Linked DNA regions of Homo sapiens. The gene in region 1 interacts genetically with each later gene. Each region holds a gene or a part of one and is shown in the gene's direction. Other genes may lie near its edges. The genes, in order: BAG6 and STK11.

What was found.
Region 2: changes in BAG6 (region 1) and STK11 together harm fitness more than expected from each alone (negative genetic interaction), as found in Homo sapiens cells (one large-scale study listed by BioGRID).

The regions. Positions count from the first base shown.
Region 1 is NC_000006.12:31,642,421-31,646,422, reverse strand, and holds part of BAG6 (large proline-rich protein BAG6), read left to right. Parts: coding exon 1-29; intron 30-818; coding exon 819-1,016; intron 1,017-1,224; coding exon 1,225-1,477; intron 1,478-1,793; coding exon of another isoform or gene 1,794-1,820; coding exon 1,821-1,898; intron 1,899-2,008; coding exon 2,009-2,116; intron 2,117-2,228; coding exon 2,229-2,341; intron 2,342-2,445; coding exon 2,446-2,533; intron 2,534-3,307; coding exon 3,308-3,594; intron 3,595-4,002. UniProt on the Homo sapiens protein: ATP-independent molecular chaperone preventing the aggregation of misfolded and hydrophobic patches-containing proteins.
Region 2 is NC_000019.10:1,225,855-1,228,931, forward strand, and holds the end of STK11 (serine/threonine-protein kinase STK11), read left to right. Parts: intron 1-599; coding exon 600-793; 3' UTR 794-809; intron 810-1,738; 3' UTR 1,739-2,577; downstream 2,578-3,077. UniProt on the Homo sapiens protein: Tumor suppressor serine/threonine-protein kinase that controls the activity of AMP-activated protein kinase (AMPK) family members, thereby playing a role in various processes such as cell metabolism, cell polarity, apoptosis and DNA damage response.

The DNA.
Region 1 (4,002 bases):
CTGCTGCCACCACGGACTACAATAACAATGTGAGCCCTTTGATGGCCCTGCCCTTTCTCCTCAGCCCCAGTACTCCCAAAACAGAACAGGCTGAAATGCAGATAACTCTTTCCCTCCCTGGAAAAACATTGCAACAGGGCCAGGTGCAGTGGCTCACGCCTGTAATCCCAGCACTTTGGGAGGCCAAGGTGGGCGGATCATCTGAGATTGGGAGTTTGAGACCAGCCTGGCCAACATGGTGCAACCCCATCTCTACTGAAAATATAAACATTAGCTGGATGTAGTGGTGCACACCTGTAATCCCAGCTACTCAGGAGGCTGAGGCAGGAGAATCGCTAGAACTCGGGAGGAGGGGGTTGCAGTGAGCCGAGATTGCACTACTGCACTCTAGCCTGGGTGACAGAGCGAGACTGTCTCAAAAAACAAAACAAAACAAAAAAACACACATTGCAACAAAACAATTTCTCTCTAAACCTGTAAGTGATTTTGTCCTCCCTTACAGAGAAGGTGATAATCTTTGCTGTAAGCACTGTCCTCGTATCGTACCCCTTGTGCCCCTGAATGAATTTAGAAAATGTAAAGTACAGGAGATCAGTATATGATGACTTACTGATTCATAGTAGTGTTTTAATAGGATGTTCCTTATGTGAATAAGATATAATTTATTTGCAAAGATTTGGTCTACATGTAAACTTCCAAGGATATAACTGAAAGTTTTGGAGGACATGGTATTCTCAGTAGGCATTATTGCTTTTATTAGTGAGATGGACTCCAGCTTGATATTTTCTGCCTTTTTGTGTTTGGCTGGTTGTGCGCAGCACGAGGGCCGGGAGGAGGATCAGCGGTTGATCAACTTGGTAGGGGAGAGCCTGCGACTGCTGGGCAACACCTTTGTTGCACTGTCTGACCTGCGCTGCAATCTGGCCTGCACGCCCCCACGACACCTGCATGTGGTCCGGCCTATGTCTCACTACACCACCCCCATGGTGCTCCAGCAGGCAGCCATTCCCATACAGGTGGGTTAGGGGGAGTCTGGCCTGAGGGAGAGTGAGGGGTGTTGATAGAGTGACCCAGGGTAGCTACTGGGCCTGAAGGAGGTTAGGAAAGGAGGAGACTGGAAACATGGTGATGAAGGCTGGAGATACTTTAGAGGTTTATCATGAGGTTTTCTTGGTTAGGCTCTTGTATTTTTCTCACATCTGCCTGTCCATCTGTCTTTTTCAGATCAATGTGGGAACCACTGTGACCATGACAGGAAATGGGACTCGGCCCCCCCCAACTCCCAATGCAGAGGCACCTCCCCCTGGTCCTGGGCAGGCCTCATCCGTGGCTCCGTCTTCTACCAATGTCGAGTCCTCAGCTGAGGGGGCTCCCCCGCCAGGTCCAGCTCCCCCGCCAGCCACCAGCCACCCGAGGGTCATCCGGATTTCCCACCAGAGTGTGGAACCCGTGGTCATGATGCACATGAACATTCAAGGTGAGAATAGTTGCTGGCGAGAAGAGCAGGATCAGCATGATGAGGGAGGTTCATGCTGAGGTGTGAGGGAACAGGGTGGGGAAGGGAGAGGCACATGCTGGTGGTGGTAGCCTGGGGACCAGAGCAGAAGCTTAAGTAGACAGATGTGGGGGGTGTGGGGGTTGGTTTGTCTTTGGAGGTGTGTTTGTGTGGTGAAGGGAGTACCTCTCCCTGTTTAGATGGAGGGAAAGGCAGGCTTTCTGATTGGGGGATTATGGGCCTGAAGTATGCCTGATCTCAGAAGGATATAGTTAGGCCTTGGCCCTACCTACCTCAGGGCCACTGTCTCTGTCTCCCTGCCCAGATTCTGGCACACAGCCTGGTGGTGTTCCGAGTGCTCCCACTGGCCCCCTGGGACCCCCTGGTCATGGCCAAACCCTGGGTAAGAGTGAGGGCATCAGGGCAGGCTGAGCTCTGGGTAGAGAAAGGGAAGGGCTGAGTGGGTGGGTTGAAGGGGTCCAGGTTCAAGGTTACATCAGACCCGCCCCCCAGGCTCCACCCTCATCCAGCTGCCCTCCCTGCCCCCTGAGTTCATGCACGCCGTCGCCCACCAGATCACTCATCAGGCCATGGTGGCAGCTGTTGCCTCCGCGGCCGCAGGTAATGACCTGGAAGGGGAGGCTTGGGAGGTAGGGCACAGTCCATGGTGGCAGCTGGCTGGCAAGGGCCTGGCCCTCAGCCCTCTTCGGTCTGTCTCTTCTGCCACCCACAGGACAGCAGGTGCCAGGCTTCCCAACAGCTCCAACCCGGGTGGTGATTGCCCGGCCCACTCCTCCACAGGCTCGGCCTTCCCATCCTGGAGGGCCCCCAGTCTCTGGGACACTGGTGAGCAAGGGTCGGGGAGTTCTAGTGCGTAACAGTCTAGGGAGAGACTCCTGTGGTGGTGCATGGAAGGGCAGGTCTGAAATTCTCCCTTGCTCTCTATCCAGCAGGGCGCCGGTCTGGGTACCAATGCCTCGTTGGCCCAGATGGTGAGCGGCCTTGTGGGGCAGCTTCTTATGCAGCCAGTCCTTGTGGGTGAGTTTTCATTCTTCCCCACTCAGAGTTTAAACTCCTTTCCTAGTCTGCTCACTGGCACTTTCCAGTTCTTTCCATATTTTCTTGGTTCCTGCTTTCCTGGAATGGGGCTGCTGTAGTGTCTTGTGTCTTCAGGTTTCAGCTTTTTTTTTTTTTTTTTTTTTTTTTGAGATGGAGTCTCACTCTGTTGCTAGGCTGGAGTGCAGTGTACAATCTTGGCTCACTGCAACCTCTGCCTCCCGGGTTCAAGTGATTCTCCTGCCTCAGCCTCCTGAGTAGCTGGGACTACAGGTGCACGCCACCACGCCCAGCTAATTTTTTATGTTTTTAGTAGAGAAGGGGGTTTCACCATGTTGGCCAGGATGGTCTCGAACTCTTGACCTTGTGATCCACCCACCTTGGCCTCCCAAAGTGCTGGGATTACAGGCTTGAGCCATCGTGCCCGGCCAGCTTTTTTCTTTTTTTTTTAAGTTACAGAGTCTTGCTCTGTCACCCAGACTGGAGTGCAATGGTGCAATCCAGTGAGTTAAAGCTCACTGTAACCTTGAACTCCTGGGCTCAAACAGTTCTCCCACCTCAGCCTCCTGAGTAGCTAGCAGTACTAGCTCCTGGCTAGTAATTGTCTTTTTTTTTTTCTGGTAGAGATGGGGTCTTGCTATGTGGCCTAGACTCCTGGGCTCAAGCAGTTCTCATGCCTTGGCCTCCCAAAGTTGCTAGGATTACAGCCAAGAGCCACCATGCTCAGCCCAGCTTTCTTTTTTTGGTTTCTTACAGCTCAGGGGACCCCAGGTATGGCTCCACCGCCAGCCCCTGCCACTGCTTCTGCCAGTGCTGGCACCACCAACACAGCTACCACAGCTGGCCCCGCTCCTGGGGGGCCTGCCCAGCCTCCACCCACCCCTCAACCCTCCATGGCTGATCTTCAGTTCTCTCAGCTTCTGGGGAACCTGCTAGGGCCTGCAGGGCCAGGGGCTGGAGGGTCTGGTGTGGCTTCTCCCACCATCACTGTGGCGATGCCTGGTGTCCCTGCCTTTCTCCAAGGCATGACTGACTTCTTGCAGGTGAGTGGCTGGCTTGCCATTCACCTCATCTTCCTGTCCCCCGGCCCAGCCAGGCAGTGGTACCTTCTTGCCATTATATAACCACTGGGTAAGAGCCCCTAGTGACATGTTAGGGGAAGGGGCCCTGGGAATTCATTGACTCTGAACCTTTCATTTTAAAGATGAAGAAAATGAGGTTTAGAAAAAGAAAGTATAGTAATTAGTGTCACTGCTTTCTGACAGCCTGTTCAGAGGAAGAGGTAGGTAAGTTGTGCTGCCTGACTCTGTTAAATACCTACCATACTTCTGCTTTAAGCAGTGAAGATCAGAATGTAACTCCCCATCTTCCCAGACCCGTTGGTTTGTGCCCTCTTGATGCCGTATTATTTCCGTGTGTCTTCATTCTCACCTCACTTTCTGTTCTTTGTT
Region 2 (3,077 bases), on another chromosome or scaffold:
ACAGTGTCCACCTGGGCAGGGTGGGCAGCCCCAGGCCTGTGGGTTTCACCAGGGTGCTGGTGATGGTTGGTGGCTAGCAGGGACTGGGGGCAGCTGGGGGCCCTGGCAGGCTGAGCTCTGCTCCCCGCGTGGTTCTGTGCTGGCATTTCGCGTGCCTGGCCTGAGCCTGGCCCGAGCCTGGCCCTCCTGTGTCCTCACAGATGAGCATGTGGCGGCTCCTGGGCCTCTAGAACCAACCATGGGCCAGGGTGCCCCAGGGGAGCACGGGAGGGTCCTGCCTTGTCAGCTTGCCTCCTACTCGTGAGGTTCCTGCAGTCAGTACCTGGGTGGGGTCCCACCTGCGGCCATGGCAGGTGCAACAGACGTGGTGGAGGGGACACTCCTGCCCAGGCCATCTGCGGGAGGCTCAGCCCCGGGGGGTGCCTCCCAGAGCTGCTGGGGGGCAGCATTTCAGGCTGGATACACCTGGGCCTGACCCGGGGGCGGGCATGGCCTGGGCAGCAGCTGTAAGTGCGTCCCCGTGGTGGGGGCCAGCCAGGTCCCTGTGGCTCTGGGGTTGCGCCCCTCAGCTCAGGCCACACTTGCCGTCTCCCTCCCAGGACAGGTCCCAGAAGAGGAGGCCAGTCACAATGGACAGCGCCGGGGCCTCCCCAAGGCCGTGTGTATGAACGGCACAGAGGCGGCGCAGCTGAGCACCAAATCCAGGGCGGAGGGCCGGGCCCCCAACCCTGCCCGCAAGGCCTGCTCCGCCAGCAGCAAGATCCGCCGGCTGTCGGCCTGCAAGCAGCAGTGAGGCTGGCCGCCTGCAGGTGGGGCGCGGCGGGGCCCGGGTGGGGCATGTGGGGACAACGCCTGGATGCCACAGCCAGCCGTGAGCATAGCCCGCGCTAGTCAGTCATGGTGACCGTCACGTGGCTGCGCGTGGTTGCCATGTGGCCTTTGGGTGGCTTGGCCACGTAGCGATCCCCGTGGAGGGTGCCGTCTCGGGGCCTGGTGTCTGGCCAGCGTGCTGGTCATGGAGGCCTACGTGTGGCGGGGCTCTGGGGGGGCGTGCCGTCCTCACAGCCACCTCTCAGAGTGGGTGCATTCCGAGGACCCTGCCCTGGGCCTGGCGCCCCCTCCCCATGCCCGCGCCGCTTCCAGGAAAGGCTTATGCTGGGCTCAGCCCAGAGGCTTTTGAGCACCAGTGGGTGGTGGGTGGTGGGGAGGGGCCGCGGCCTCCATGGCTCTGCCGGGGTGCCGCAGGCTCTGAGCCAGCTGCCAAGTATGGCTGAGGCTGAGTCGTGCCGGACGCTGCCCTGTCTCTCCCTGTGTGCCTGCCTCCTCTCCCAGCCCCAGCCCCAGCCCCGGGTGGGAGACGGAGTCCCAGAGGTGTCAGAGACCCTTAAGTCACCTGCCGAGGATGCGGGGTGGATGGGGGCCCGAGGCTGAAGCCCCTGCCTTGCCACAGCCCCTCTCCCAGGTTTTGGGGGCCACCGCCTGAGTTACATGTCTGTCCCCCAAATGGGTGCCCACAGCCCATCCACCAGCGTCAGAGCCCGCCAGGCCCCACTGCAAAAGGCCACACAATGTACCCCGGGAGTGACTCAAGGGTGGCCTTCCCTGGCCTCCCCTGCTGCCCCCCAGGAGTCCGGTAGCCCCATGACTGTACCTCAGCTTCTCCATCCTCCCAGGGGCCCGCGGGAGGCGGAGAACCGGTGCCCAGGCTGACCTCTTCCGTCTTCCTTCCACCCTGCAGCCCGTGTCCAGGAGCCCCGCCAGGTGCCCGCGCCAGGCCCTCAGTCTTCCTGCCGGTTCCGCCCGCCCTCCCGGAGAGGTGGCCGCCATGCTTCTGTGCCGACCACGCCCCAGGACCTCCGGAGCGCCCTGCAGGGCCGGGCAGGGGGACAGCAGGGACCGGGCGCAGCCCTCCCCCCTCGGCCGCCCGGCAGTGCACGCGGCTTGTTGACTTCGCAGCCCCGGGCGGAGCCTTCCCGGGCGGGCGTGGGAGGAGGGAGGCGGCCTCCATGCACTTTATGTGGAGACTACTGGCCCCGCCCGTGGCCTCGTGCTCCGCAGGGCGCCCAGCGCCGTCCGGCGGCCCCGCCGCAGACCAGCTGGCGGGTGTGGAGACCAGGCTCCTGACCCCGCCATGCATGCAGCGCCACCTGGAAGCCGCGCGGCCGCTTTGGTTTTTTGTTTGGTTGGTTCCATTTTCTTTTTTTCTTTTTTTTTTTAAGAAAAAATAAAAGGTGGATTTGAGCTGTGGCTGTGAGGGGTGTTTGGGAGCTGCTGGGTGGCAGGGGGGCTGTGGGGTCGGGCTCACGTCGCGGCCGCCTTTGCGCTCTCGGGTCACCCTGCTTTGGCGGCCCGGCCGGAGGGCAGGACCCTCACCTCTCCCCCAAGGCCACTGCGCTCTTGGGACCCCAGAGAAAACCCGGAGCAAGCAGGAGTGTGCGGTCAATATTTATATCATCCAGAAAAGAAAAACACGAGAAACGCCATCGCGGGATGGTGCAGACGCGGCGGGGACTCGGAGGGTGCCGTGCGGGCGAGGCCGCCCAAATTTGGCAATAAATAAAGCTTGGGAAGCTTGGACCTGGCCGTCTGGGTTTTGTTCGCGTCTCAACGTGGATGGGGCGGCAGCGGGGCGGGCGCCGTTGACATGCGGAGGGCAGTGGGGACTCGGGGCGCGGGAGGGCCGGGGCCGGCTCCCTCAGGGCCGGCGGCAGCAGCGGTGGCGGCGCGGTTATTGCTCGGAGGCGGCGCGGGCTGCCGCCAGCACACGCCGCAGTGAGGTAAACGGTCTCGGAGGTCGGCAGTCACGGTGTTGAGCCGCCTCCCGGCCCAGGGCGGCGAACTCGTCTGCGACCGTTAGCGCCCCGCGGCCCCCGCCCGGGCGAGCTCGCGCACGCGCCCGGCACGCGGCGGCTCCATCGGGCCCAGTGGGCTGCGCGACCCTCGGGTGGCGGGCCCTGCGACTAAGCGGCCGCCCCGTCCGGGACTGAGGGCGAGTGATCGTTGTCCTCAGGAGCCCGAAGCTGAGAGCCGTTCACGCCCCTTCCTTCCCGCCCAGCCGGGGTCTCCGCGGCCCGCGC